Homo sapiens: one gene and its partners. The protein of the gene in region 3 interacts with the protein of the main gene of each other region in a pairwise test. Each region holds a gene or a part of one and is shown on either strand. Other genes may lie near its edges.

Region 1 (5,675 bases), on a different chromosome or scaffold from region 3:
GTGCCACCACACCTGGCTAACTTTGGTATTTTTAGTAGAGACGAGGTTTCACCATGCTGGTCAGGCTGGTCTCGAACTCCAGACCTTAAGTGATCCGCCCGTCTCAGCCTCCCAAAGTGCTGGGATTACAGGCGTGAGCCACAGTGCCTGGCCAGCAACAGCATTATAACTTGTCTTAGAGAATACATACTAGCCAGCCAGGCGCGGTGGCTCACATCTGTAATCCCAGCACTTTGGGAGGCCAAGGCGGGCGGATCACCTGAGGTCAGGAGTTCGAGACCAGCCTGACCAACATGGAGAAACCCTGTCTCTACTAAAAATACAAAATTAGCTGGGCATGATGGTGCATGCCTATAATCCCAGCTACTCGGGAAGCTGAGGCAGGAGAATAGCTTGAACCCAGAAGGCGAAGGTTACGGTGAGCCGAGATCACGCTACTGCACGCCAGCATGCCAGCCTGGGCGACAGAGCAGAACTCCATCTCAAAAAAAAAAAAAAAAAAGAGAGAGAATACATACTAGCCATTGGTTGGATGCCATTAAAGAAATATTTTATTTTGTCTATATCATTGTAGATGCTAGTACCCTTAGATTAGTAAAACAAAACTACCATATGATCTTTATTTAAAAAGCCTTGGGTTAAGCTCTGGAGAATTTTCATAGGCAAATTCTTCTGTATGAGCTGGATCAGTAAACACGCCAATAAAATCTATCTCCAGGAAGAATGGACCATCCACTTTATCAGCCAAGGTGAATCCTATAGAAGAGATCTAAATTTAAAATACAGAAATTGATTAAAATCTCATACAGTGACGTACTGAGATTATTCCAGGAGTTTAAAATCCCATCAGGTGATGATTATAACTGGGTTTTAATGCTATCAGCCCTTAGCAAATACTACTAATTCTCCCATAGCATACTGTAAGAGGAAATACAAGACTGCTTTTCTTTCCTCATTCAACTTCCTCCCCTCTCCTCATTAGGTAGTGCCACTTAAGACTAGGAAGGACGGCCGGGCGTCGTGGCTCAGGCCTGTAATCCCAACACTGGGAGGCCAAGGTGGGCAGATCACAAGGTCCAGTTAAAAACCAGCCTGCCCAATATGGTAAAACCTCGTCTCTACTAAGAATACAAAGATTAGCCAAGTGTGGTGGCAGGCACCTGTAATTCCAGCTACTCAGGAGACTGAGGCAGGAGAAATGCTTGAACCCGGGAGGTAGAGGTTGCAGTGAGCCGAGATCATGCCACTGCACTCCAGCCTGAGTGACAAAGCAAGACTCCATGTCAAAAAACAAAAAGACTAGTAAGGACGACATGAATGCCTAATGGAGTTCCTTGAAGCGTTCATAAACTCTTATTTTAAAGCTAAATTAGGAGAGAAGGGAGGGGGGAAAATAGCTAAAGTAAAATGTAGGCATGCTAAAAAATGATCCTTCTAAAATTCCTTCAGGATGGGGGTATGGTTCATAGGAGAGGTCTAAGTCAGCCTCTGGCTGGGTATAAGAGCAGTGGCCCTGAGAAGAAATATTCATCTGCCAGCCTTCTCAAATGAACTCAGTCTCCCCAGAGTTCCGATTCATTAAAAATGATACAGTTCTGAGTGAAAAATACAGGAATATGTTACCTTATCAAGCGGAAGCTCATGCTGAACATCCCGGATTCTTCCTCGATTAGAGAAGAAAAATTTGGAAAAAGGAATCTGAAAGAAGAAACCATTTACTTCATAACTGAAATGTAAGCAATTGAGGCATCTGCATGTAATTGTAACGATAAAATGAGTTTACATTTATTCTAAAATTATGTCATATATGTATTATGACAAATGGCTAGCCATTTGGATCAAAGATATAACTCAGGCCAAACGATAAAGGGTTAACTATGAAAAAAATATTTGTAACATTTATGGAAAAAAGACTAGTATCCTAAACACAGCTTTTTTTTTTTTTTCTTTCTGTGGAGAATGGGGTCTCACTTTGTTGCCTGAACCCGGGAGGTAGAGGTTGCAGTAAGCCAAGATCACACCACTGCACTTCAGCCTGGGCGATAGAGCTAGATTCTATCTCAGAAAAAAAAGAAAAAAGAATTTTAACGTTTCCCTTCCTTCCTACATTAGAAACTGAACTAAAAGAAATGTCCTATTCCTTCTACTCTTGAACTTTCAAGTGTGCCTTTTTATTCATCAACTTTATTTTCATATTTCTTCTCTATGTAATTTACTTATTATTAAGCACGATCTTTTAAAACTATATCTGGCTTTAATTGTTTGTGTTTTGTTTTGAGATAGGGTCTCACTCTGTTACCCAGGCTGGAGTGCAGTGGTGCCATCTTGGCTCACTGCAACTTCCACCTCCCAGGTTCAAGCGATTCTCCCACCTCAGCTTCCTGAGTAGCTGGGACTATAGGCGCACACCACCACACCCGGCTAATTTTTTTTTTTTTTTTTTTTTTGGTAGAGACGGTGTTTCACCATGTTAGCCAGGCTGGTCTTAAACTCCTGAGCTCAAGTAATCTGCCAACCTTGGCCTACAGGTATGAACCACCACACCCTGCCTAAATAATTATACAGAAGCTCTCCAGGATATATTCCTAAATTTTAAAAACACAAAAAACAGGTACAGAGTATGCTAATTTTATTTATATTTTGAGTTTAACAAAGGAAGAAAATGGCTGGGCCTGGTTGTGCATGCCTGTAATCCCAGCACTTTGGGAGGCCAACACAATAGGATCAACTGAGCCCAGGAGTTCAAGACCAGCCTGGGAAACACGGTGAAACCAAGACTCTAGTAAAAAAACAAAAAACTTATCCAGCCATGGTGGTGCATCCTTGTAGTCCTGGCTATTCAGGAGGCTAAGGTGGGAGGATCACCTGAGGCTGGGAGGTTGGGGCTACAGCGAGCCCATGCTGCACTCCAGCATGGACAACAGAAGAGAGACCCTGTCTCAAATAAGTAAATAAATTTTAATGAACATAAATAAAAATGAATTATACATATTAATAGTTATTCCAGTAATTTTATCTCTAGGAATATAGCCTATGAAAATAGTTAAGGATGTTTACCTCAGAGTTTGTTCCGACAGTAGAAAACTCTGAAAACAATCTAAATCTACATGTACATAATGAAGAACAAGTTAAGAAAAAAAAATTTTTTTTTTTGAGACAGGGTCTTACTCTGTCACCCAGGCTGAAGTGCATGCAGTAGGGTGATCTCAGCTCACTGCAGCCTTGACCTCCCAGGCTCAAGCAATCCTCCCACCTCAGCCTCCTGAGTAGGTGGGACTAAAGGCACATGCCACCACACTGGGCTAATTTTTGTATTTTTGTAGAGACAGGGTTTTGCCATGTTGCTCAGGCTTGTCTTAGACTCCTAGCTTCAAATGATTCACTGCCTTAGCCTCCCAAAGTGCTAGGATTACAGATGTGAGCCACTGGACCCAGCCAAAATTGTTGTCTACTTATATAATATCATGCAGACATTAAAAATGATGTAGAAATATATTTGAAGAGAAAGTTGTAAACAATAGTTCAGTGAAAATACTGTATATATGTTATAAAACACCACTGGAAGGGAAAAGTGTGACTAGAAAAGTGTAGAAGATACATATTAAAAATAGTATTTTTGTGCCAGGCGCGGTGGCTCACGCCTGTAATCCCAGCACTTTGGGAGGCCAAGGCAGGCGGATCACGAGGTCAGGAGATCAAGACCATTCTGGCTAACACGGCGAAACCCCGTCTCTACTAAAAATACAAAAAATTAGCCAGGTGTAGTGGCAGGTGCCTGTAGTCCCAGCTACTCAGGAGGCTGAGGCAGGAGAATGGCGTGAACCCGGGAGGCGGAGCTTGCAGTGAGCAGAGATCGTGCCACTGCACTCCAGCATGGGCAACAGAGCCAGACTCTGTCTCAAAAAAAAAAAAAATAGTATTTTATCTGCTGGGTATGGTGGCTCATGCCTGTAATCCCAGCACTTTGGGAGGCCGAGGTGGGCGGATCATGAGGCCAGGAGTTCAAGACCATCCTGGCTAACACGGTGAAACCCTGTCTCTACTAAAAATACAAAAAATTAGCTGGGCGTGGTGGTGGGCACCTGCAGTCCCAGCTACTCGGGAGGCTGAGGCAGAATGGTGTGAACCTGGAAGGCAGAGCTTGCAGTGAGCCGAGATCCCGCCACTGCAGTCCAGCCTGGGCGACAGTGCGAGACTCTGTCTTACAAAAATAAAAATAAAATAAAATAAAAATAGTATTTTATCACTGGATAGTGGTAGTACAAGATTTTTTTCTGTACTTCCCAAATTGTTTTTATAATGAAGTAGTTATTTTGTATAATAATTCATTATATATATATTACTTAAATACAAGTATATATAATTTGTGTTATATATCTGTATTACTACATATATATGTATGTATTGAGTGCTTATTTTGTGCTAGGCACTAGGACAAAATTCTAGGTACAGGGGAAACTGGTAGGAACAATATAAGCAAGATCTCTGCTCTCACAGAATTTACAGAATTTAGGGCCAGGTGTGGTGGCTCAAACGCCTATAATCCCAATACCTTGGGAGGCGAGTCGGGTGGATCACTTGATGTCAGGAGTTCGAAACCAGCCTGGCCAACTTGGTGAATGAAACCCCATCTCTCCTAAAAATACAAAAATTAGCCGGGCGTTGTGGTACACGCCTGTAGTCCCAGCAGGAGGATCTCTTGAACCTGGAAGGCAAAGGTTGCCGTAAGCTGGAATCACACCACTGCACTCCAGCCTGGGCAGTAAGAGTGAGACTCCATCTTAAAAAAAAAAAAAAAAAGAATTTATATAATTTATGTTCCAGGGAAGGCAGTAGAGTGACAATAAACAGATGAATGAATGAACAAAGTAATTTTAGTTAGTGATAAGTTCTATGAAGAAAGTTATAGGATGGTGGTGTTGAAATAACTGGATTAGAGGGTCCAACTTTAGTTACAGGAATCAGGAAAGGCCTCTCTGAGGCAACTTTTGAGCCGAGAGGTGAATGACAGGAAAGAGAAAGCAGGTGAAGACATGGGGGCAGAGCATTACAGCAGAGCAACACTAAGTGCAAAGCTCTGAGATGGAAATGAGGTTGTTAAATCTGACAGAAAAGGGGCTGGTGTGGAGGAAGGAGGTAGGAGGAGAGATGGAAGATGAAGACAGGAGGAGAGATGGAAGATGAAGACAGGGGTCCGATATTGTAGGCCCATAGGCCATGTGCAGGAGTTTGGACTTTATTCTTTTTTTTTTTTTTTTTTTTTCTTGAGATGGAGTCTTACTCTGTCACCCAGGGTGGAGTACAGTGGCGCGATCTTGGCTCACTGCAACTTCCACTTCTCAGGTTCAAGCGATTCTCCTGCCTCAGCCTCCTGAGGAGCTGGGACTACAGGCGTGTGCCACCACCTGCTGCTAATTTTTTGTATTTTTAGTAGACACAAGATTTCACCATGTAGACCAGGCTGGTCTCAAACTCCTGACCTCAAGTGATCTGCCCATCTCAGCCTCCCAAAGTGCTGGGATTAAAAGCATGAGCCACCTAGCCCAGCCTGGACTTTATTCGAATTGTAATGGGAAACCACTGAAGGGTCCTGATATGGTTTGGCTGTCTCCCCACCCAAAATCTCATCTTGAATTGTAGTAATCCCCATGTGTCAAGGGAGGGACCAGGTGAAG
Region 2 (7,031 bases), on a different chromosome or scaffold from region 3:
ACACAGGCTAAGAACCAGCAGCTTCTGTTCCAGGCACTGTGCCTGATACTGGGAATGTGGATTCAGTCCAAGTCCTCTTAAAGCCCATCCAGCAAGGGGCACTGACAAGTAATCAGGCAGTTTTTCAAGAATTCATTCACACACAAGAAAACAAAAGAAAAAAAAGAATTAATTTGCAGCTGTCATCAGCTGTGGACGGGAGCCTTCTGAAGGGAAGCACTTGGGAGCCTGCAGGACGAATACCTACACCAGACTTGGAATTGAAAAGACCTCACTGGAGAAAGAGACATTTGATGTAAATGAGTCTGAAAGGCTTGGGAGGAGCTTGATTCCCTTCTCTGATCCTTCCTGTCCCAGAACTCTAAGATGTGTGGTCAGAACAAGTTGTTCTGCTATGGCCTAGGCAGTCACTGCTAGGAGTAACCTGAAACCTTGTTTTGTGGTACCAGGTACAGTGGCAGTGGCCTTGTCAGGGTCTGGACACGTTTAAAAAATTTTTTTGAGACAGTCTCACTCTCTTGCCCAGGCTGGAGTGCAGTGGTGTGATCTTGGCTCACTGCAATCTCTGCCTCCCGGGTTCAAGCAATTCTTGTGCCTCAGCCTCCCAAATAGCTGGGATTACAGGTGCACGCCACCATGCCCAGCAAATTTTTTTTTGTATTTTTAGTAGAGACGCATTTTGCCACATTGGCCAGGCTGGTCTCAAACTCCTGACCTCAAGTGATCCACTTGCCTCGGCCTCCCGAAGTGTTGGGATCATAGATGTGAGCCACTGTCCCTGGCCAAGGTCTGGGCACTTTTATTTGGTAAAATTGGAAGTGTAGTTTCTGACTGTTTCTGAATTATTTTGTGGAGATAAGAATTAACCGGAAACTCCTTTTGTATCCGATCCATATAGTATTGGGACAAAATTATGGGATAGATTACATTGAATACATATTCATAAAAAATGGTAGCAGATCTCGGCTCACTGCAGGCTCCACCTCCGGGTTCATGCCATTCTCCTGCCGCAGCCTCCCAAGTAGCTGGGACTACAGGTGCCCGCCACCACGCCTGGCTAATTTTTATTTTTGTATTTTTAGTAGAAACGGGATTTCACCGTGTTAGCCAGGGTGGTCTCGATCTCCTGACCTCGTGATCTGCCCGCCTCGGCCTCCCAAAGTGCTGGGATTACAGGCACGAGCCACCATGCCGGCTGAAAATCACAATTCTAATCTCATGTCTCAAGATAATCTTTGTTATTAGTTTGTGTAGGAAATACACATTTTTATTTTACAAAAGTGTATTATTCTTTATTGCTTTTTTGCAGCCTGTTCTTTTTCATTCAATATATATTGAGCATTCTTTCCTATTAAGTATGACATATTGCTTTTTTTTTTTTTTAAACTACAGATATAAAAGGTCTGAGGTGGCCGGGCACGGTGGCTCATGCCTGTAACCCCAGCACTTTGGGAGGCCGAGGCGGGTGGATCACCTGAGGTCTGGAGTTCGAGATCAGCCTGGCCAAGATGGTGAAACCCTGTCTCTACTAAAAACACAAAAATTAGCTGGACGTGGTGACATGCACCTGTAATCCCAGCTACTCGGGAGGCTGAGGCAGGAGAATTGCTTGAACCTGGGAAGCGGAGGTTGCAGTGAGCCAAGATTGCGCCACTGCACTCCAGCCTGGCGAAAGAACAAGACTCTGTCTCAAAAAAATAAAAATTAAAAAATAAAAGGTCTGAGACAGATTGCATTTTGATGTCACTGTTTAGAAGTAGACTAGATTCTAGGTGCTTTTTAGCACCCTGGAAGTTTCTTCCTTTTTTTGGTGGTGGAGGACAGGGTCTCACTCTGTTACCCAGGCTGGAGTGTACTTCAGCCTTGAACTCCTGGGCTCAAGCAATCTTCCTATCTCAGCCTCCTGAGTGGCTGGGACTATAGGGGTGCACTGCTACGCTCAGCTAATTTTTTATTTTTTGTAGAGATGGGGGTCTGACTGTGTTGTCTAGGCTGATCTCAAACTCCTGGCCTCAAGTGATCCTCCTGCCTCAGCCTCCCAAAGTGCTGGGATTACAGGTATGAACCACCATGCCTGGCCTATCCTGGAAGTTAGACATCCCAGTGACTATTGTCCCCTTTAAGGAGGGGGCCATGGGAAGCAATACTGGTAATGGGAAAAACGGATTTGGGAAATTTTTCTAAGTGTTGTAGGGTGGCATACTCACACTTTCAGGGTTCTGCCCTGAGAGCCTTTTAGGATGGGTAAGAGGGACTATAACACCTCTACCTCTCAGCCCCAGGCACAAAGACAGCTACAGCTTCTGAGCTGAGCCCTGTGTGTAGCATGTAAAGGGGATGACCAGTGCCTTATGGTTTGTCTTTACCACTGCTGGTTTGGGGCTGTGGACTACAATTGACCTGTTAGAAATCCCTGGCCTTGTTATCTAGCAGAATCTGTTTTGCCTGTTGGGAAGTGAGTGTTCGGTCAGGTCTTTTGTTTTTGTATGTAGGTCACCTGGCTGTCCTTCACCTTCCTTTTTGAGGTCAGTCTGTCAGCCCTAGGACAGACCAAGACTTTCCATTGAATCAACAATTATTAAAGGCCTGCCTGACCCTTGGCGGGTAATACTGGTGGGGTTAAAGTTCTCCCTGCCCTCCAAGAGCTTGCTCTGTAGCTGACTGTCATCTTATTGACCACAATTCCAAGTGTGGCCAAACCCTGGGAGTTCCTGATGGCATCCTGATTTCTCTGTAACTTTTCTTTCCAGTGCCCGCTCACTGTAGTTACTTGCCACTGTTACCACCCAGGAGGTACAGAACCTTGTCCGCTGCCGCAGACCTTGATCTGACCCGCCTTACCACTCCCTTGGCTACCATGCTCCTGCCTCTAGTCTTGCTTTTGCCACTTCATGCCTTCCCCACTGTGCTGCCAGATGAGTCATTCTGAAACCAAGCTCTGATCTCACCTCCCATTCATGAATTGTAAGTGACTCTCCTGTCTTTCTCTGCAGGAGATGTCAAGCCCTGGCCTAGTGTGCAAAGCCCTGTCCAGTACAGCCTGTCTAGGCCTTGGAGCCACCTCTGTCCTGTCTGCTTCCTACCCTCTAGGCTGCAGCCCAGCTGAACTACTTGTAGTTTCTTTCCCGCTTGTGGGCACCTGCCACTCTGCTCCCACCATTCCTGTGGTCCTTCAGTCCCTGCATATCTGTCCAGGCCCAGCTGAAGTGTCACCAGCTCTATCAGCCTTCTCTGATTTTCCTCCACTCGGAGGAGATTTCTTCCCCTGAACTCCTAGAGGGTTTTCGCTTTCTCTGATAATCTGATATAACTTGCTGGCTGCCTTTCCTGGTGCTCTTGATAGAAAATATTTCTTTCAGGGGACCATAACTTCTGGGAGGCAAGAATAATCTTCCAGTCCCTTCAAGCTTTCACGTGTTGCTTGGCACTCTGCAGGCACTTCAGGAAACCTCGTGAGCCTTCCCCTGCCATTTGAGTGACTTGGAGTGCCCAGGGTCATCCCACAGTCTCAAAGCAGAGCTGGCATTGGGCCGTGTTTGACAAGCTCTCTTCCTAACCTTACTGCTTCATCAGGTTTCCCAGGATCATACCATGTCAAGCCCTGAACGAAACCTTTGCTCTGATGCTCTGCCTTCCTCTTCTGTGTTTCCCATCTCACAGATATTGATGACCATGAGATCCCTGCTCAGAACCCCCTTCCTGTGTGGCCTGCTCTGGGCCTTTTGTGCCCCAGGCGCCAGGGCTGAGGAGCCTGCAGCCAGCTTCTCCCAACCCGGCAGCATGGGCCTGGATAAGAACACAGTGCACGACCAAGAGTACGTATTCAGCCCGGGCTGTGGTCCAGTGGCCTCCCCATCATCTGCAGCTGAGCCAGCGGCAAGGGCATGCTCAGTCCTCCTTTCCTTCTTCCTGTTTCTATGGCTCCTTGACATTCTTCAAGGATGATTCTTATTCCTTATTGCCACCTATAAGTCAGGTATTCTTTTTTCATCATTGTATCACAGGTGGAAGATCTTTAGGCCCAAATGGGGCACATTACTTGTCTGAATCCGGTCTCTCCTTTTTTTCACCACAGACAGACACACACACATACAAATAGACACACAGGTACACATACACAGTCATAGTAGCAGAATCCAGAAAATAGCTAAGGTTTCTTGACTATAACAAGACCTTTTTTAAATCAACACATTCAAACATTGAATCATTTGTTGCAGCTTTTGTCTTGGGCCAGTTAGCCTCACGCATTATACTCGGTTATCCTTTGTTTTTAAGGCTGGGTGCAGTGGCTCACACCTGTAATCCCAGTGCTTTGGGAGGCTGAGGCAGGTGGATTACTTGAGCCCAGGAATTCGAGACCAGCCTAGGCAATATAGGGAAAACCTGTCTCTACTAAAAAATTGCAAAAAATTAGCTGGATGTGGCAGTACATGCCTATGGTCCCAGCTACTTGGGGGGCTGAAGTGGGAGAATCAACTGAGCTTGGGAAGTTGAGGCTACAATGAGCCAAGATCACGCTCCTGCACTCCAGCCTGGGTGGCAGAGTGAGACCCTGTCTCAAAAAAAAAAAAAAGTTTTAAAGGACATATTTTTAAATTGATGGCCTGAAAATGTTATAACAAAATTCTAATAATAAAGAGGAAAGAATACCCTAATCCTGCCAGCATAACAGATGGTCTATTTGACTTTTCCTGCTCCTCTCAAGGCCTTGTCTATCTCTGTGTAATCCTTGAGTGTGGTCTGCCACTGCTGGTGTTTGTTTTTCTGAGCTGGAGGAAGTTTAAGATCTTGAACTTTTCAGAGTCCTTAAGATTTCAGCATGATCCCAGTATCTGTCAATTGGCCTGAACCTGACTGTTGATTTTTAGGCATATCATGGAGCATCTAGAAGGTGTCATCAACAAACCAGAGGCGGAGATGTCGCCACAAGAATTGCAGCTCCATTACTTCAAAATGCATGATTATGATGGCAATAATTTGCTTGATGGCTTAGAACTCTCCACAGCCATCACTCATGTCCATAAGGAGGTAGGTCTGGCAGTGGCTTGGGGGACTGTATCACAGAAAGGCTTCCCTTTGTTAATTTGGTCCCCAGTCTTGTTGACTTGTGTTGTCCTTATGTGCCAAGAGTGCTGCTTCTCCACTGGGCATGATGGCTCGCATCTGTAATCCCAGCACTTTGGGAGGCCAAAGTGGAAGGATCACTTGAGCCAGGAGTTCAAGACCAGCCTTGGCAATATAGTGAGACCCTGTCTCTACAAAACAAACAAAACAAAAATTAAAAAATTAGCCAGGCCTGGTAGTGCATGCCCGTAGTTCTACGTACTCAGGAGGCTAAGGTGGGAGGATTGCTTGAGTCCAGGATGTCGAGGCTATAGTGAGCCATAATCATGCCACCGCACTTCAGCCTGGGCAACAGAGTGAGGCCTTGTCTCAAAAAGAGAAAAAAAGAAAAGAAAAAAAAAGGTGCTGCTGCTTCTTTCTCTTCTGTGTTCTGCCTCTTTCTGTCCAACGATCCTTCCCGCAAAGGATAACTTGCTGAGGCAGAAGTCCCAGGGCTGGGCATTTGTATCTTTAAGTGCTACAGGCATTTCTGTTACACACCAGAGTATGAGAATCAGTGCCTAAAAGACAGACCGTATTCAAACTGCAGAGCAAGGGAGAAGTTGTTTAATGGTGAATTGACACCAAGGGATTCAGGGACGTGGCAGTAATTGAGGGCTTGTGTGATACTGTATGGTGCTCCAAAGTTTCTGAAGCCCTTTCAAGTAGGTTAGAGATCTCGTTGGATCTTTGCAACATCTTGAGTAGGCAGTGGCAGGCATTGTTAATACTTCCATTTTCAGTGGTGCATGCCTGTAGTCCCAGCTACTCATGATGCTGAAGTAGGAGGATCACTTGAACCTGAGAGGTTGAGGCTGTGGCAAGCTGCGATGTTGCCACTGAATTCCAGCCTGGGCAATAGAGCGAGATCCTGTCTCAGAAAACAAAAAACAAACAAAACCCTCCCATTTTCTAGGTGAAGACACTGAAATCAAGATCTTGTGCCAGGCTAAGCACAGTGGCTCATGCCTATTATCCCAGCACTTTGGGAGGTTGAGGCAGGAGGATCGCTTGAGCCCAGGAGTTCAAGACCAACCTGGGCAGCATGGTGATATCCCGTCTCTACAAAAATTAGCTGGACATAGTGATGCTTGCCTGTAATCCCAGCTGCTGGGGTGACGGGGTGGGAGGGTAGTGGGGAGGAACACCTGAGCCTGGGAGGTCGAGGCTGCAGTGAGCTGTGATCGTGCTACTGGACTCCAGCCTGGGTGACAGAGTCAGACCCTGTCTCAAAAAAAAAAAAAAAAAAAAAAAAAAAATCCTCGTGCCTCCACATTTAATGTCATTCCCCTTCTGCCACACTGCCCTCTATAGAGAGGAAGCAAGGCAAAGTTAGCCAGGTGAGTGGGATTACATTCGCTGCTAGGAGTGCAGGTGAGGTTTGAAGGCAGCAGGGAGCATGAATGATTTTGCACAGGAGAATGGCATTGTTTAGGGAAGATCCTTGGTTGTGGGAGACAGACTGAAGGACATGAGGAGAGACTAGTGTTAGGCGGAGGAATTAGGGGTCAGCAGTCCTGGCAGATGAGGATAGTGGTGGTGACAGGAGAGGGAATGGTGAATGTGGGAGATGTGGCAAAGGAAGAACCAGCCAAGGATGTGAACAGCCTCAGCCCACTAACCCTGCTCTTGGAGCATGGGAAATACTTTCTCCTCAAAGATCATAACAGGTTCTGCTCATCGGCAGTGCCTTCTTCCTCTTGTTTTGATGCCAACTTGTTGTCCAATTCGTCACTGTTTCTATTTTATCAGGCAAATTTGTGCACAGAGCTGACCCTCAGGAGGACTGGCACTTTTCCAATTAAAGAAGAATGAGCCATAATGAAACAAATAAGCAAAAGCCTATTTTGAAGGGCCTTCTTTTAACTGGCAAATGTAATTTCTAAACTGGATTATGATAAATTGACTCAATAATACATATTCTCTCT
Region 3 (6,870 bases):
TTTTTTTTTTTTTTTGAGACAGCCTCATTCTGTCGCCCAGGCTGGAGTGCAGTGGCGCGATCTCAGCTCACTGCAACCTCTGCCTCCGAATTTAAGCAATTCTCCTGCCTCAGCCTCCTGAGTAGCTAGGACTACAGGCGCCTGCGACCACACCTGGCTAATTTTTGTACTTTTAGTAGAGACAGGGTTTCACCATGTTGGCTACGCTGGTCTTGAACTCCTGACCTCGGGTGATCCACCCGCCTCGGCCTCTCAAAGTGCTGGGATTACAGGCATGAGCCACTGCGCACCTGGCCAGGACTTTCATTTTCAAGCAATCCTGAGGAAACTTTCACAAGCCTGGAGAATTTGGAGTATAAACTGTATCAATAAGATGCTTATTAATGATAGGACAGGAAAGGTGCCAAGAGTGAAATGCCTGTTAAACCAAGGGCAAGTGCAGAATGACTTTAATTTTCTGGGTTTGTAATTTTTCCTTTTGACATTACTGGTTGGTGTTATTAATGTATGTGTGGAAGGCAGGCTCCTGGGGTAGGTAAATTCTTAGGTGACAGAAAAATCGATTGAACTAGTCTCCACATAAATAGAAAGGATGATGGTATATTGTGGTATATTGCACGCACATGTGTGTGTGTTTGTGTGTGTATGCACAAGTTGCACACATGTCCATGTATGTATGTGTGTGTGTGCACATGTGTGTATTCTTCTGTTGCTCTCCTTCTGACCTATATTACATGTAGGTGACACTTTCTATTCTGTCATTGTAGTAACTTAATCTTAGTTTTCTTTTTTTTTTTTTTTTGAGATGGAGTCTCACTCTGTTGCCCAGGCTGGAGTGTAGTGGCACAATATTGGCTCATTGCAACCTTTGCCTCCTGGGTTCAAGCAATTTTCCTGCCTCAGCCTCCCAAGTAGCTGGGACTACAAGAGCCTGCCACCACAACAGGCTGATTTTTGTATCATTAGTAGAGATAGGGTTTCACCATGTTCGCCAGGCTGGTCTCGAACTCCTGACCTCAGGTGATCCATCCACCTTGGCCTCCCAAAGTGCTGGGATCAATTAAGTGGTCACAGCAACACATGTCAGCCTCTCAGGGATGTGGGAAAAATTTGAACAAAGAAACCCCTATAGTCCCTCGCTTATAGGATACAAAGTACCCTCACTACAAATGGAAGCAGAAAACATCAGGCCTTGGTTTAACCAGAAATTAGGTAGTAGGAGTACTTTTCTAACAGCAAATGTGGTTGCTTCAGTGTGCAGATGTAGTGCGGAAACATGGAAAGGCATTTTAATTTTTGTGAAGAGAAGCATTTTAATTGCATAAAGTTACCTAATATGTAAAGATTTCTTGAGTGCATAAAGTGATGCAGAGATGTTAGCAGAAGTGTTGGCCTCAGCTGGCCACAGGGATCAGAGCTGGCTCCTACCTTGCACATGTCTGTCACCCAGCTCTCATCTCCTTTGTCTATGAAGCCATGGATGATGAACCGGGTCTTTCTGTCCATTTGAAAATTTGATGCCTCAATTGTTGATGGATCAGAGAGGAGGAGAATCTGTGACAGACGCAGAAGTGCTTCATGTTTTCGCAGCCCAGCCTCACAGGCCTTTTTCCTTCCTCATCTCCGCCTGCGCCAATGCCTCTACTTTTCAAAGCTTAGCAAAAAGCCACTTCTTCCATGAAGCCCACCCTGATCTCCCTTTTCTTGCCCCATCTCTCCAGGTGAGTAATCACTGCTTCCACTAGGCCTGGATTGTGGTTTGAGGTTTTACCTTCCCTGTGGTTTTTGTTAGACAGTAAGCTGTTTGCCCCAGACCAGAATCACACAGTAGCTAGAGGTTCTGGCAAATGTGAACCATTCATTCATTCAAGCCAACATTACTAAAGACCTGCTCTGTCTAGGTCTAGCTAGGTCTGGGGGGCAGCTTGAGGGATGGGGTGGGGCATGGTGGAGGAAGAGGGCACAGAGATAAGGTATTCATGGTCTGCAGGGTGGGCATAGCCCCGTGCCAGTTACAGTGACATTTAAATGACAGAGGTCTCACTTGAAAGTTGTTTGGGTTTTCATTGGTGTACAGCAGGAAGCGGGTGCCGATCTTCTCAGGGCTCCAGGGGAGAATTTTCAGGGGCCTGATTGCTGTCCCGCCCCAGGGCTCAGTGTCAGAAAAGCACCCGAGGTCCTCATAGCAAACTTCTTTTCCTACAGAGAAAGGTTGAATCTGCTCAAGGATTTGCTCTCAAGGTGTGCTCTGGGGTGTCACTGCTGTTCGGGCCTGGTCACTCTTCTATTCAGGGACAGTCTGAAGACAATGGATGAACCTACTGCAACCCCTCCCACTCTCTTCTTGACCCCAGTGCCCACCTACTACTGGCCGGTAGTAGTATCAGTCCCATTGAATCCCACAGGGACACCACTGGAGCCTTTGTTTAGAACTACCCTCAAAACTGGAAAGTTCTAAGTCCCATTCCTAGCTCTTCTGATACATTTATTTGACCAATGTGATCATGGGCATTGATAAGTCAATATGTTAACTCAGGCAGATGTTTCATGCTTTACCTAGAAATGTCTGGCCTTGGGCACCCCGAGCATGAAGGTAGGCCACTGGGGGGATCCCCAGAAACAGGTCTCCCTTAAACTGCCCAGCCTACTCTCCCAGGCAGAGTGTCAGCCCACATCTTCTCTCTGGTACCCTGGAGCTGCTGGGAGCCCTGCCACAGTTAAAGCTTTCTCTGGCCAGGGCTGAGAGCTTAAGTTTAAGCCCTTCCTACGGGGCAGGAGTGGTGTTTCTTACCTTTGGCTGCTCCCAGCAGGAAAAGTGTGATTGTCCAGAAGATCAGCATCTACAATAAATTTAAACATAATTCAGTCTCACCGGGCATTGCCAGAGCAGTGAGCACCGACGCCCTGGACTTCAGTACTGTTTACCTCACCTGTACGTCACAGCAGGGGGAAAGGAGTTGCAAAGGTGGCTTACCCTGTCTAATGTTCCAGATGTTCCCTCCCACCGGATCGAGTGTCCAGCCCTTTCTAAAAATATATATTCCAGCCTTATCATTTGGACACTACTTCAAGAAAACAGCAGGTGATTATAGCCCATGCTGTGCGCACTTAATACTTTAATCTGCCCAAATACACAAAACAAGATTAATAATAGCTGTCAAGTCTTCCCACAAGTCTGGAAATATGACAGAATGCTTGGTTAAAGCAGGGAGTGAAGTCACCAACCTTGTACCTATGTAACTATGCATGTACTTGTGAGCTGAATGGGCCCTCACTTTTCAGTTTTCTATTTCATCACCAAATAGTTTACAAGTCTCAATAGGGACACAGCAGCAAACCCTAATGATAGAGGATAGTATTTCTCATTTAGAATAGATGAAAATACCTGCAATTAGTTGAAAGTAAAGAGAAATCTCTGATTAAGAAAACTTCTTCTCTCTCTCTCTCTCTCTCTCTCTCTCTCAATCTTCCTCTCTCTCTTTCGAAGACTAGGAATACTGGGCATCTGAGCTTTGGAGAAAAATTCAACAGCCCTCACAGTAGCTTCTGACCACAATCCTCCCATTAACTGCCTATTCCAGTTATATATTGCTATGCAATGAACCAATCCAAAAGACAACACTTTAAAACAATAGCAATGATTGCATTATGCCACTGTAATCTCAATAGTTGGGTTCAGGAGCCCCCAGAGGCCCATGTCATGTCTGTTGAGTTTCCCCAGGTCCTCTGAAGGTTGCACACCTGCAGATAATTCTTGGACCCTGTAAAGCCATCATGATATAACCAGAGACCTCTGCATCTGTGAACAGCCCAGCCAGTTCACACAGCAAGGCAGATAAGCCTTCACAAAGCAAACACCATGAGTGCCTCCCCTTGCCAAGTTAAATATGCCTCGGTGTCAAAGTTCTCAATCTTAAATAACCAAAACACAAGGGTGCAGGCCTAAGGGCCTTCCTCTTAAGAAAATGGAAAGGACTCCTGGAATCATAAAGAATAGCTGCCAACTGTTACGAAGCCTTACCAAGTACAGTCAGAATTCCAAGCACCTTACGTGTATTACCTAATAAGTTTTAAAACAATCCCATAAGCCTCTCTTTATAAATGTGGGAACTGAGGCACAGAGAGATAAGTAAATTGCCTAAAAAGTCACACGACTAACGAGTGATGAGGTAAGATTTGAATTCAGGCTGTACAGAGTTGTTGAATATTCAGTTGTGTTGAGCTAGTAATCAGCAAGCTTCACTGGATGTCAACCATGTAGAACAAGAGGGATACACAGAATGAGTCAAAAGAGAAAATGTGAAAACCCTCTTGGCCCTTGACCTGTTTCCTCCCTACTTCCAGGCATCCCCAGGATGGAGAAACAGGCTAGACTTGGTGATGGACTGGGAAGGTGGTCAGAGTTCTTCATCCCTTCCTCCTGTACACACACCCTTTGCAATGTGATCTTGCAGCTCCTTCCATCAAGAAGTGGAGTTTATTTCTCCACCTCTTGAATCTGAGCTAGACATGGTATGACTTGATTTGGTCATTAAGTGTGGTAACAGCAACATCTTTGAACAACTCAAAGCCAGCTGTCCCCCAAGTATGTAAAGGACCCAGCCAAGATTAGTGGCACTGCCTACTCAACCCACTGTAACCACAGAGGCATGAGTAAATCCAGCCAAGACCAGAAGAACCACCCAGCAAACTCAGATTTTTGAGCATGGATAAATGCTTTAATTCAGTGCTTTAAGCCACTGAATTGGTGATTGTTTGTTATGCAGCAGTAGCTAACCAATACAGGAACCCAAGCCAGGCCTGGAATTCAGAGACAGCAGCACCTGTTGCACTCACTGTTACTATTCTTTAGCACACAGCACCAGGTTCGAGCATACCCTTTCCTAAGACAATGAGGAAACTCCGTGCATCAGTCAATATACACTGTGCTCCAATGCACTGGCTCCTGTTTAAATGCTCTAGGGGATTTAATTAGACTAAGCCTCTAGCAAGGCTGAGGTTCAAGCTGCTTCTCCTTCACAGGCTGTCAGACAATTTATTCATTCCACACCAGATGGAAAGATTTCTGGGTGAGTCTTTCAAACAACAATAACAACTGGAATTTCTTTTTTTCTTTTCTTTTCTTTTTTTTTTTTTTTTTTTTTTTGAGATGGAGTCTTGCTCTGTCACCCAGGCTGGAGTGCAGTGGCGCGATCTCGGCTCACTGCAAGCTCCACCTCCTGGGTTTATGCCATTCTCCTGTCTCAGCCTCCCAGGTAGCTGGGACTACAGGTGCCCGCCACCACGCCCAGCTATTTTTTTGTATTTTTAGTAGAGACGGGGTTTCACCGTGTTAGCCAGGATGGTCTCGATCTCCTGACCTAGTGATCCGCCCGCCTCGGCCTCCTAAAGTGCTGGGATTACAGGCGTGAGCCACTGCGTCTGGCCAACAACTGGAATATTTTGATTGAACTTACATCCAGTTTCAGGGTCACAAGTAAGGATTCATAGGCATACAAATCTGTGGATCTCTTTTTGAAACCATGACTTCATTTCCACCAGACAGCTCTCAGGTCTTCAAGACGTATGACTCATTGAAGGTCACAAAAGTAAAGAATGAAGTCACCAGCCATTATCTGTTATACATACATGTGTAGATGAAGCCCAAATATCTGCTTTCCTTCAGGCAATCAGCTCTGTCCTTGTTTGCTCCTTCAATTTTAATTCTGGGGGAATGATAGAGTTGGGTTCAAGGTGGGTTTTCGGAGTCCCTTAATTTTAGAGAAATGTTTGTTTTGAGAAAGCTGGTTTTTAAATCTCTTCCAGAGCCTAGAATCAGACTGTATTACATTGAACTATGTTTCTAAATATCCCATGAACTGGCAGACTCTCCCTCTGTGTGTTGTAATGGAAGTAGGGTACAAGAACTTGCCTCATCATTAGTCAGCTATTGATTTCTTTTTCTTTTATTAGAGATACCTGTCTGTGGGAAGTGAACTCAGCTTCTGAGTTTCACCTAGAGTTCTCAAAGTCCTTGATGACCGCTGGTAGATCTCACCGAGGCCAGACAAACCCTGGTGCCAGTTGGAGTGCATTAGGTCCAAAAGTCTGCGCTCCTCTGTAGGGGTCCTTGGCATTTCCAGAACAACTCCCAGCCTTCAGAATCTGGGTGCTGTGAAGTTCTGCAAACTTGAATGACGATTAGATAGGGAAATAATCAGAACTTGCTCTCCATACAAGTATCAAAACGGTTGATTTACACCCAAAACTTGGCTGAAGCCACTTTTGGGGGCCTCTGCTTGTCCATGAGGAAGTCCTCATCATCCAGCTGCCATGGACTTCGGAGACCAGGAACTGGGTCTTTTTTTTGCTCACTTCTGTGTCTCCAATGCCTAGCGGAGTGCCTCACATATGGTAGGTGCTCAGCACATGTTTGTGGAAGACATGAATGCTTACTCAAGGACCATCCTAGTCTTGTCTCCTACAATTCTCTTCTCTGAATACTGCCCAGAAGCCATAACAAACTGTCTTCTTAATATTAAAAGAGCTAAGCTTTTAAAAACTGTGTAACTTTTCTGTACTTACCTTTAGTTGTTTCATAATGACCAAGATCCTATTTAAGAAAATGTTTTAGGTCTTTTGACATTTCTTACAAACTTCTGAAATTCTAATTTAAGTCTTTTGATCTCAGAATGACTTTGGGACATACTAGAGGGTCCCTGGAGCTTCTCAAAGGAAGAGACATATTAAACCAATTAGGCTTATTAAATACATTAAATTATATGGGAAACATTGTAAATAAGAAATTATATTTAACCTTCTTTTAGTTATACTTGTATAAATATGTTGTTTCATGTTCCACAAACTAATAAATTCTTAGAAATCTAATGT
Region 4 (7,113 bases), on a different chromosome or scaffold from region 3:
TGTACCTGGCACTCTGAATACACACACACACACAAATATATATTTCCTCCATAAATATAGTCTTGTGTCAGCCAGGCGCCGTGGCTCACGCCTGTAATCCCAGCACTTTGGGAGGCCGAGACAAGAGGATCACCTGACGGCAGGAGTTTGAGAACAGCCTGGCCAACATGGCGAAACCCCATCTCTACTAAAAATACAAAAATTAGCCAGGCACGGTGGTGGGTACGGGTACCTGTATTCCCAGCTACTCAGGAGGCTGAGGCAGGAGAATCACTTGAACCCAGGAGGTGGAGGTTGCAGCGAGCCGAGATCGCACCATTGCACTCCAGCCTGGGCGACAAGAGTGAAACTCCACCCCAAACTATTATCTATATATGTGTGTGTGTGTTTGAGTGTGTGTACATATATATACATATATATACAGTCTTGTGAGAAATAGGTAAATTTAACCCCATTTTGCCAATGATGAGATAAGGCTTAGATAGGTTAAATAATTTGAACAAAGTTAAAGGTGAATTAAAGATAAGAGTTGGCAAAAGAAAGTAAAAGTAGCTTTATCTTTCATAGGTTTCCTGTTCATTGGTGTTTTTATGACAACATTGACTAATAAGAGATTAAGGTAATAAATGTTCTCTTTCCCAGAACACAAGTGTTTGAGAACACTGAAGATTTATGCTGCTATTCAAAACAGAAGATCTAGTTGTGTTGCTAAATGCCATGGGGGAAATGTGCCTAAACTGCAGACTGATGTAAAACAGATGAGAATTCAAATCTGAGTTCTGCCATACTGGTTTGTAGCATTTGGCAAGCTACTTAACCAATCTGAATCACAATTTTCTCAGCTGTAAAATTCAGAACAATAAAAGGCCATTTACAAGGTTATTATGAGCCCCAAGAAGAAAATAAGCATGAAAGCATCTATCCCATGCCTATGGGGCACTTAATAAATATTAGTTTCCTTTTTCTTTCCAAAAACTTTTAGGTCCTGGAATTTATCTCTGATTTATGAACTTCATGCAAAGAATATCTATCATTTCCCAGTTAAATAATCAACTTTACTGAATTTGAATTAGCAATGTATATTAATGGCTTTTACCATTAAGGTAAAACACAAAAGCAGTGTATATTAGTGGCTTTGTATATGAGTGGCTTTTACCATTAAGGTAAAACACAAAATTCATCAAGTTATTTTTTTTTCAAATCTCTCATAAGTGGGTAAACAAAAACACTGCCTTGGGAAAGTTAGTTCCTATTCTGCATGGTATGAGCCCATTAAAATTTATAGGTGAAATATGTTCCATACGCTAAACATTCAGCACAAGCGGAAAACTGGAAACACATACCTGCAGCTGACTCTCACTGATGTCAACTCCCAGCTCAGTCATTACCTCTGATTCATTCATTCATGGTAAAGTGAATCTCAACTAAATGACATACACATGAAACAAATACTTAAATTTATAAGCAGTTCTTCCCCAGGGCAGGAAGTGAAACGGCATGTTCACAAGTAAGCAAAGAGTCTCGAGAGACCATTGTTTTTAGCTCTTTTTCCAGTGCTATCCCTCTACTCTTTCCTCAAATGCTCTTTTTTTCCCCCATCAAAACATGTAATCCAGAAAAGCATGTGACTAATTCATCCTCATTAAAGTGTAAATAAGGGACAAGGCTTAATGTCTCCCAGAGGTATTTATCTACACCATAATTGGGAATAAGGTCACTGGCTTAAAGGGAAGGAATGCGAATCTAGTGATGATGTTAACGATCTGCAAAGCAACAAGAAAGAACAATTTTAGTCCTGAGAGCCTTCGCATTGCTCCTGAAGTCAAATCGACAAGCCATCTCAGCACTTAAAGCTGGATATGGCCACCAGACACCCCTAAAGCTCCTTTATCCAGTCCTCTAAAGTGCTTCTTTCCTAAAGTAGGTGCTCAGGCATCACTGACTGGAGCTACGGGAGTCTCATTCTGACTATGCCACTGACACAACCACGACGGCTGCTACCAAACCACAATCGTTAGCTTCTTGGGATTCTTGGTTTAAGTCCTAGGAGTTGCTAAAGAGGCCAGTGTAGGTAAGAATGAGCTCAAGCTTAGGAAGGGCCACTGGGTGAGGTGCAGACCTGCCTCCACTGCTCAGAACGCATCCCACTGCTCAGAACAGTAGCCAATAAAGAAAATGATCATCAGCAAAGTAACTTTTGAGCACTGAAAGGAAAGCCCACCCATGGCTGAACAAGTCTCTGTGATATTTGTAACATTTCCCACTAGAATCTCTACCAAAAGATTAGAAGAGTGTTTAACACAAGAGTTTCAGTTATTCCCCCTAGGCAGGATAAGAGACAGACTGCTGAGCTTCCCTGGGGTTACTTACCTGAGATCCATATCTCCATCAACCCAGAAGGTGAAAATGTTAGAGATGGTGCCCCCCGGGCAGCAGCCCATGATGAGAACAGCAATAGCTTGGACTGGCTTCAGAGAAAAGCTAATGGCCAGGAGATAAGCTGTAAAAGGCATGAGCCCAAACTGGCAGAGCAGTCCCACAGCAATGCCCCAGGGTCTCCTGATGTGCGACCACAGCTTCCGGATCTCCACGGAACATCCCAAAGAGAACATGAGCAGCCCCATCATCACAGTGGACACCACTGTGAAAACGAGCTCCAGGTTTCCATGCACCTCCAGTCCCACTGGCAGCTCCTCCTCTGAACTGTTGGCAGGGCAGGCTGAGCTGCTGGAACAATTGGCTCTCATCTCCTCATCTCCTTAAGGCAGCATTACAAATGAACATCGGCAACAATGGCTGGGCAGGTCTATCCTGCCACATTTTGTAATAGTGCAACGAAGTCACACATGGAGAATCATTCCAATAACTGTTGGCCAGCAAGGTGATTCATCCTAATCTGATCAATTTTTTCACAAGTGGCATTATAAAAGTAATTATCACAGGCATGAAACATATAATAAACTGTGGTAAGTAAGGCTTTCCACTTCTGTTCTTACTCACCACTGAATATGTATGTGAGATGAGACAAACAAACTTGTTGTCAAGTGGAGTGACCGGGCTATGTCGTCAGCATCACATTGTGTCCCTGGAAAGTAGGGTGGATGCCAAGAAATAATTTCTCCAAATTCAGTTGGGATTTCAAAGAGCCAGGATGCACAGACAGAAAAGCTAACTCCGGAAAAAACAACAAAGCCAAAGCCACACCTTGTAGCATTAGCAAAGCGTGTCTGCTGGAAATAGAGCAAAAAGAAAAAAAACGCCGGTGGAGGAAATGTCAGGAGGGACTAAGAATAATTTCAAGGAGCTTCAGAATTTGTCTCAGTTTTTCTTCTAGTTCTATTAGAATTTGTGTCTAAAGTCAATAATTAAACACCTGTGAGAATAATATGGTATTAGGCACCTAATTATGTCTCATGAAACATGTGAAAACTAATTCCTTCACCCAAAATAATTCAAGGGAGCTCTCACTTGCTTTTGGAGATAAGAGTCTACTTTGAGATACATACCCCTGGCCTCCTAGGGACATCTGGGAATCCTGCAAGGGGATGTGGTAAAGAGCTTGGTCTGAAATGGAGATGGGGTCTGAGGACAGCCTCTGACCACAGTGCCCAGGGCCCCTCTGTGCATTCTAAGCAGGCACTGCTGGCAAAACCCAAGGACTGTATGGTTCTGTGAAACTAAACCTCTGAAAAAGCAGGTGCCACACCCCTTCTCACAGCAGAAAGTTTATTTGTGGGGCACAGGCTAGTAACAAGGCACACTTCATAAACGCCTCTACCTGTCTCAAGAGGGATACTAGCTATGCATTGTTTATTCATGGATGAGCAAATTCTTCTCCATGACAGAATGCTCAGGACATGCTGACTGTATAAAAATACAAGTTAGATTCAAATGTGAAGTAAATTCTAACTATTTGAAGAAAGAATAAACTGCCTTTGGCAAACAAACCCTGAAGGCAGCTCTGGCCATCCAGCCTCCCTGGAGGTTGCGTATAAGGGGTCAGTCAGCACAGGGCGTATTTACGCAGAGCCCTGCAGAGAATGGACACTGAGGAACGGGAAAGGTCTCTGGAAGGCAAGGTGTTCCCAGCTTGAATGATGCAGAGGTGTGGTCAGGCTGAGGAGGAAGGGAGGAGGGAGACAGCTAACATTTTCTGAGCACTTCTCAGGGGTGACAGAGGTGGTGATATGGTTTGGCTGTGTTTCCCCCGCACCCAAATCTCATCTTGAATTATAGCTCTTATAATTCCCATGTGTCATGGGAAGAACCTGGTGGAAGGTCATTGAATCATGGGGGCGGGTTTCTCCCGTGCTGTTCTCATGATAGTGAATAAGTCTCTCAAGTTCTGATGGTTTGATAAAGGGGAGTTCCCCTACACACGCTCTTGCCTTTTCTGCCACCATGTAAAACGTGTCTTGCTTCCCCTTCCCCCTCTGCCATGATTGTGAGGCCTCCCCAGCCATGTGGAACTGTGAGTCAATTAAACCTTTTTCCTTTATAAATTACCCAGTCTTGGGTATGTCTTTATTAGCAGCGTAAAAACAGACCAATACAGGTGGCTAGGTGCTTTACACATATGTGGCTATGTCTGGTGAAGCAGAACTTTATTTACTTATTTAGCAAGAGAAGGGGTCAGGGGTGTCTGCCTAGATAATGTCCAAAAGCCCCTTAGTCAACCTTCTTTTTTTTTTTTTTTTTTTTTTTGAGATGGAGTCTCCTACTGTCGCCCAGGCTGGAGTGCAGTGGAGTGGCGCGATCTCGGCTGACTGCAAGCTCTGCCTCCCGGGTTCATGCCATTCTCCTGCCTCAGCCTTCTGAGTAGCTGGGACTACAGGCGACCACCACCATGCCTGGCTAATTTTTTGTATTTTTAGTAGAGACGGGGTTTCAGTGTTAGCCAGGATGGTCTCGATCTCCTGACCTCGTGATCTGCCCGCCTCAGCCTCCCAAAGTGTCAACCTTCTTTGTTCCCAGGAAGAGTCACTTGAATCGCCCTTTTTAGTTATACAAATTTAAGTTTTGTATAAGCACCTCCATTCCTGATAAGGATGGTATAAGCACCCCCATTTCTGATGAGAATGGTGTGACGGGAACTTTTGTGATTGCTGGGTACTCAGTGCTGATAGAGGGGAGGGGGCTAAATATGCATAGCAGCCTTAAGGAGCCTCCTGGGAGAGGGAGAAAGGTGACCTTGGCCACTTCTCTTTTAAAATGTAGTGTTGGCCGGGCGCAGTGTCTCATGCCTGTAATCCCAGCACTTTGGGAGGCTGAGGCAGGTGGATCACGAGGTCAGGAGATCGAGACCATCCTGGCTAACACGGTGAAACCCATTCTCTACTAAAAATACAAAAAAATTAGCCAGGTGTGGTGGCGGGCACCTGTAATTCCAGCTACTCAGGAGGCTGAGGTGGCAGAATGGCATGAACCAGGGAGGTGGAGCTTGCAGTGAGCGGAGATTATGCCACCAAACTTCAGCCTGGCAGCCTGCACGACAGAGCGAGACTCCGTCTCAAAAAAAAAAAAAAAAAAAAAAAGTAGTGTTATCAGAATTTCTCAAAAGAATTAGGATGTTTCCGACTGAGGTCAGCTGGTCCTAACACACACCAGGAAAGACAGGGGTTTCTTGCCTGATGACAGGTTCCTCTGTGTCCAGTCACCCTGGACAGATGCCACAGGACACAATGACTAAGTATATGGATATGACCTGAAGAGAAGTCATCTTGAGAGCCCAGGCTTGGACACCGCCATGTTGTGTGCCAGGACTGGACCGGAAGGGACAGGGTGGCAATGGATAAAGGCCCACTGGACTGGGTGGGGCCAATGCATCAAAAGGTCCCAACAGAAACAACCGCAGTGATCCCAGGGCCTACCAGCGGGCTGGTCAGGCTTTTCCAAGTTTCTCCCCAGTGGAGATGGGAAGGAGATTTTCCTGGGAAGAGTAAGCACTTAGGGTTCTCGGTCAATTTGTAAAGAAGATTTCAAATACAGGATCGCAGACTTCCTGCCCTTATTGGTAAGTAGAGATTCAAATGATTAATTAGAAAATTTTAAAAAGCATGACCAACTTTACATCCCAAGCCAGTGAGGCAGATTATGAGATCCCACTTAATCCTCACATTTATTCTAGGAAGTAACAAAGGCCCATTGGGGCCATATTATTTGTCGAAGATTATTAAGCAGGTAAATTATAACATTGGGATTTAAATCTCAATCTAATTCTCCACCTGTCCTCGTTTCCTTCCCTGGAGCACACTGAAGTGGAAGCAATGAAAAGCAGTCAAGAGCAAGACCATGCGGAAAAGACTGGCAACCACTTAGGCATAGCTCAGGGGTAAAACACCACTATTTGGCTTAAGGATGGAGAAATAAACTAATCCCTAATCTCTAACATTATCTTCTATTCTCACACACTCAAAAGGCATCTACATATGTTCAATATGTATGCACCTTCATTTTGAGATCCAGTTCTACAAATCACAGGAAGTATTTCATGTACTTCCAGCCTCTGTAAGTAGAATTTGGGGTGAAAGATACTCCTCAGGAAAACCAACAGAAAAGGCTGGGAATGTAAAGTCTGAGGGGAAAGTGCCAAAAGAAAAGGTAACCAGACTTGGCTGTGGAACTGTTTCCCACGCTCTGAAAGGCAGCACAGGGTAAAACTTCTAGAAGCTTGAAAGACAGAAAAATCCTATAGGTTCAAAAAGAGTTTACGTAAATTCATGAGAGATAAATCCAAAACAGATATAAAGGAAATTGGCAGTAATGGAAAAAGTAGACTGTTTACTCAGACATGACACAAGGTAAAAAGCCAAATTCAGTATTTTTTTAACTCAACAATAAAAACACTATCACTTCCCAGAAAAAAAGACAAAATACTTGAAAAAAAGTGATCAACATCTTCCATGGTTGTAGTGTCCCTTCCAAAACTCATGTTGACATTTAATTGTCATTTTAACAATGTTGAGAAGTGGGCCCTTTAAGAGGTAATTAGGTCATGAGGGCTCTGGATAGATGAATGCTGTTATAGTGGGGAAGAATGGGTTCGTTATAGTGGGAATGCCATGTGATGCCTTCTGACATGTTACGATGCAGCAAGAAGGCCCTGGCCAGATG

The links.
Region 1: the proteins of PNLIPRP1 (region 3) and NDUFAF1 interact in binary tests that used the Homo sapiens proteins (3 or more experiments, as listed by UniProt).
Region 2: the proteins of PNLIPRP1 (region 3) and MCFD2 interact in binary tests that used the Homo sapiens proteins (3 or more experiments, as listed by UniProt).
Region 4: the proteins of PNLIPRP1 (region 3) and SLC10A6 interact in binary tests that used the Homo sapiens proteins (3 or more experiments, as listed by UniProt).

What each region holds. Positions count from the first base shown.
Region 1 is NC_000015.10:41,386,825-41,392,499, forward strand, and holds the end of NDUFAF1 (complex I intermediate-associated protein 30, mitochondrial precursor), read right to left. Parts: intron 1,699-5,675; coding exon 1,624-1,698; intron 770-1,623; coding exon 620-769; 3' UTR 529-619; downstream 1-528. UniProt on the Homo sapiens protein: As part of the MCIA complex, involved in the assembly of the mitochondrial complex I.
Region 2 is NC_000002.12:46,905,807-46,912,837, reverse strand, and holds part of MCFD2 (multiple coagulation factor deficiency protein 2 isoform A precursor), read left to right. Parts: intron 1-1,964; exon of another isoform or gene 1,965-2,058; intron 2,059-3,660; 5' UTR 3,661-3,666; coding exon 3,667-3,815; intron 3,816-4,159; exon of another isoform or gene 4,160-4,868; coding exon 4,869-5,028; exon of another isoform or gene 5,029-5,954; intron 5,955-7,031. UniProt on the Homo sapiens protein: The MCFD2-LMAN1 complex forms a specific cargo receptor for the ER-to-Golgi transport of selected proteins. Plays a role in the secretion of coagulation factors.
Region 3 is NC_000010.11:116,587,100-116,593,969, reverse strand, and holds the start of PNLIPRP1 (inactive pancreatic lipase-related protein 1 precursor), read right to left. Parts: upstream 3,012-6,870; 5' UTR 2,975-3,011; intron 2,958-2,974; exon of another isoform or gene 2,931-2,957; intron 2,841-2,930; coding exon 2,792-2,840; intron 2,200-2,791; coding exon 2,045-2,199; intron 1,555-2,044; coding exon 1,429-1,554; intron 1-1,428. UniProt on the Homo sapiens protein: May function as inhibitor of dietary triglyceride digestion. Lacks detectable lipase activity towards triglycerides, diglycerides, phosphatidylcholine, galactolipids or cholesterol esters (in vitro).
Region 4 is NC_000004.12:86,846,369-86,853,481, forward strand, and holds the start of SLC10A6 (sodium-dependent organic anion transporter), read right to left. Parts: upstream 3,017-7,113; 5' UTR 2,748-3,016; coding exon 2,371-2,747; intron 1-2,370. UniProt on the Homo sapiens protein: Transports sulfoconjugated steroid hormones from the extracellular compartment into the cytosol in a sodium-dependent manner without hydrolysis.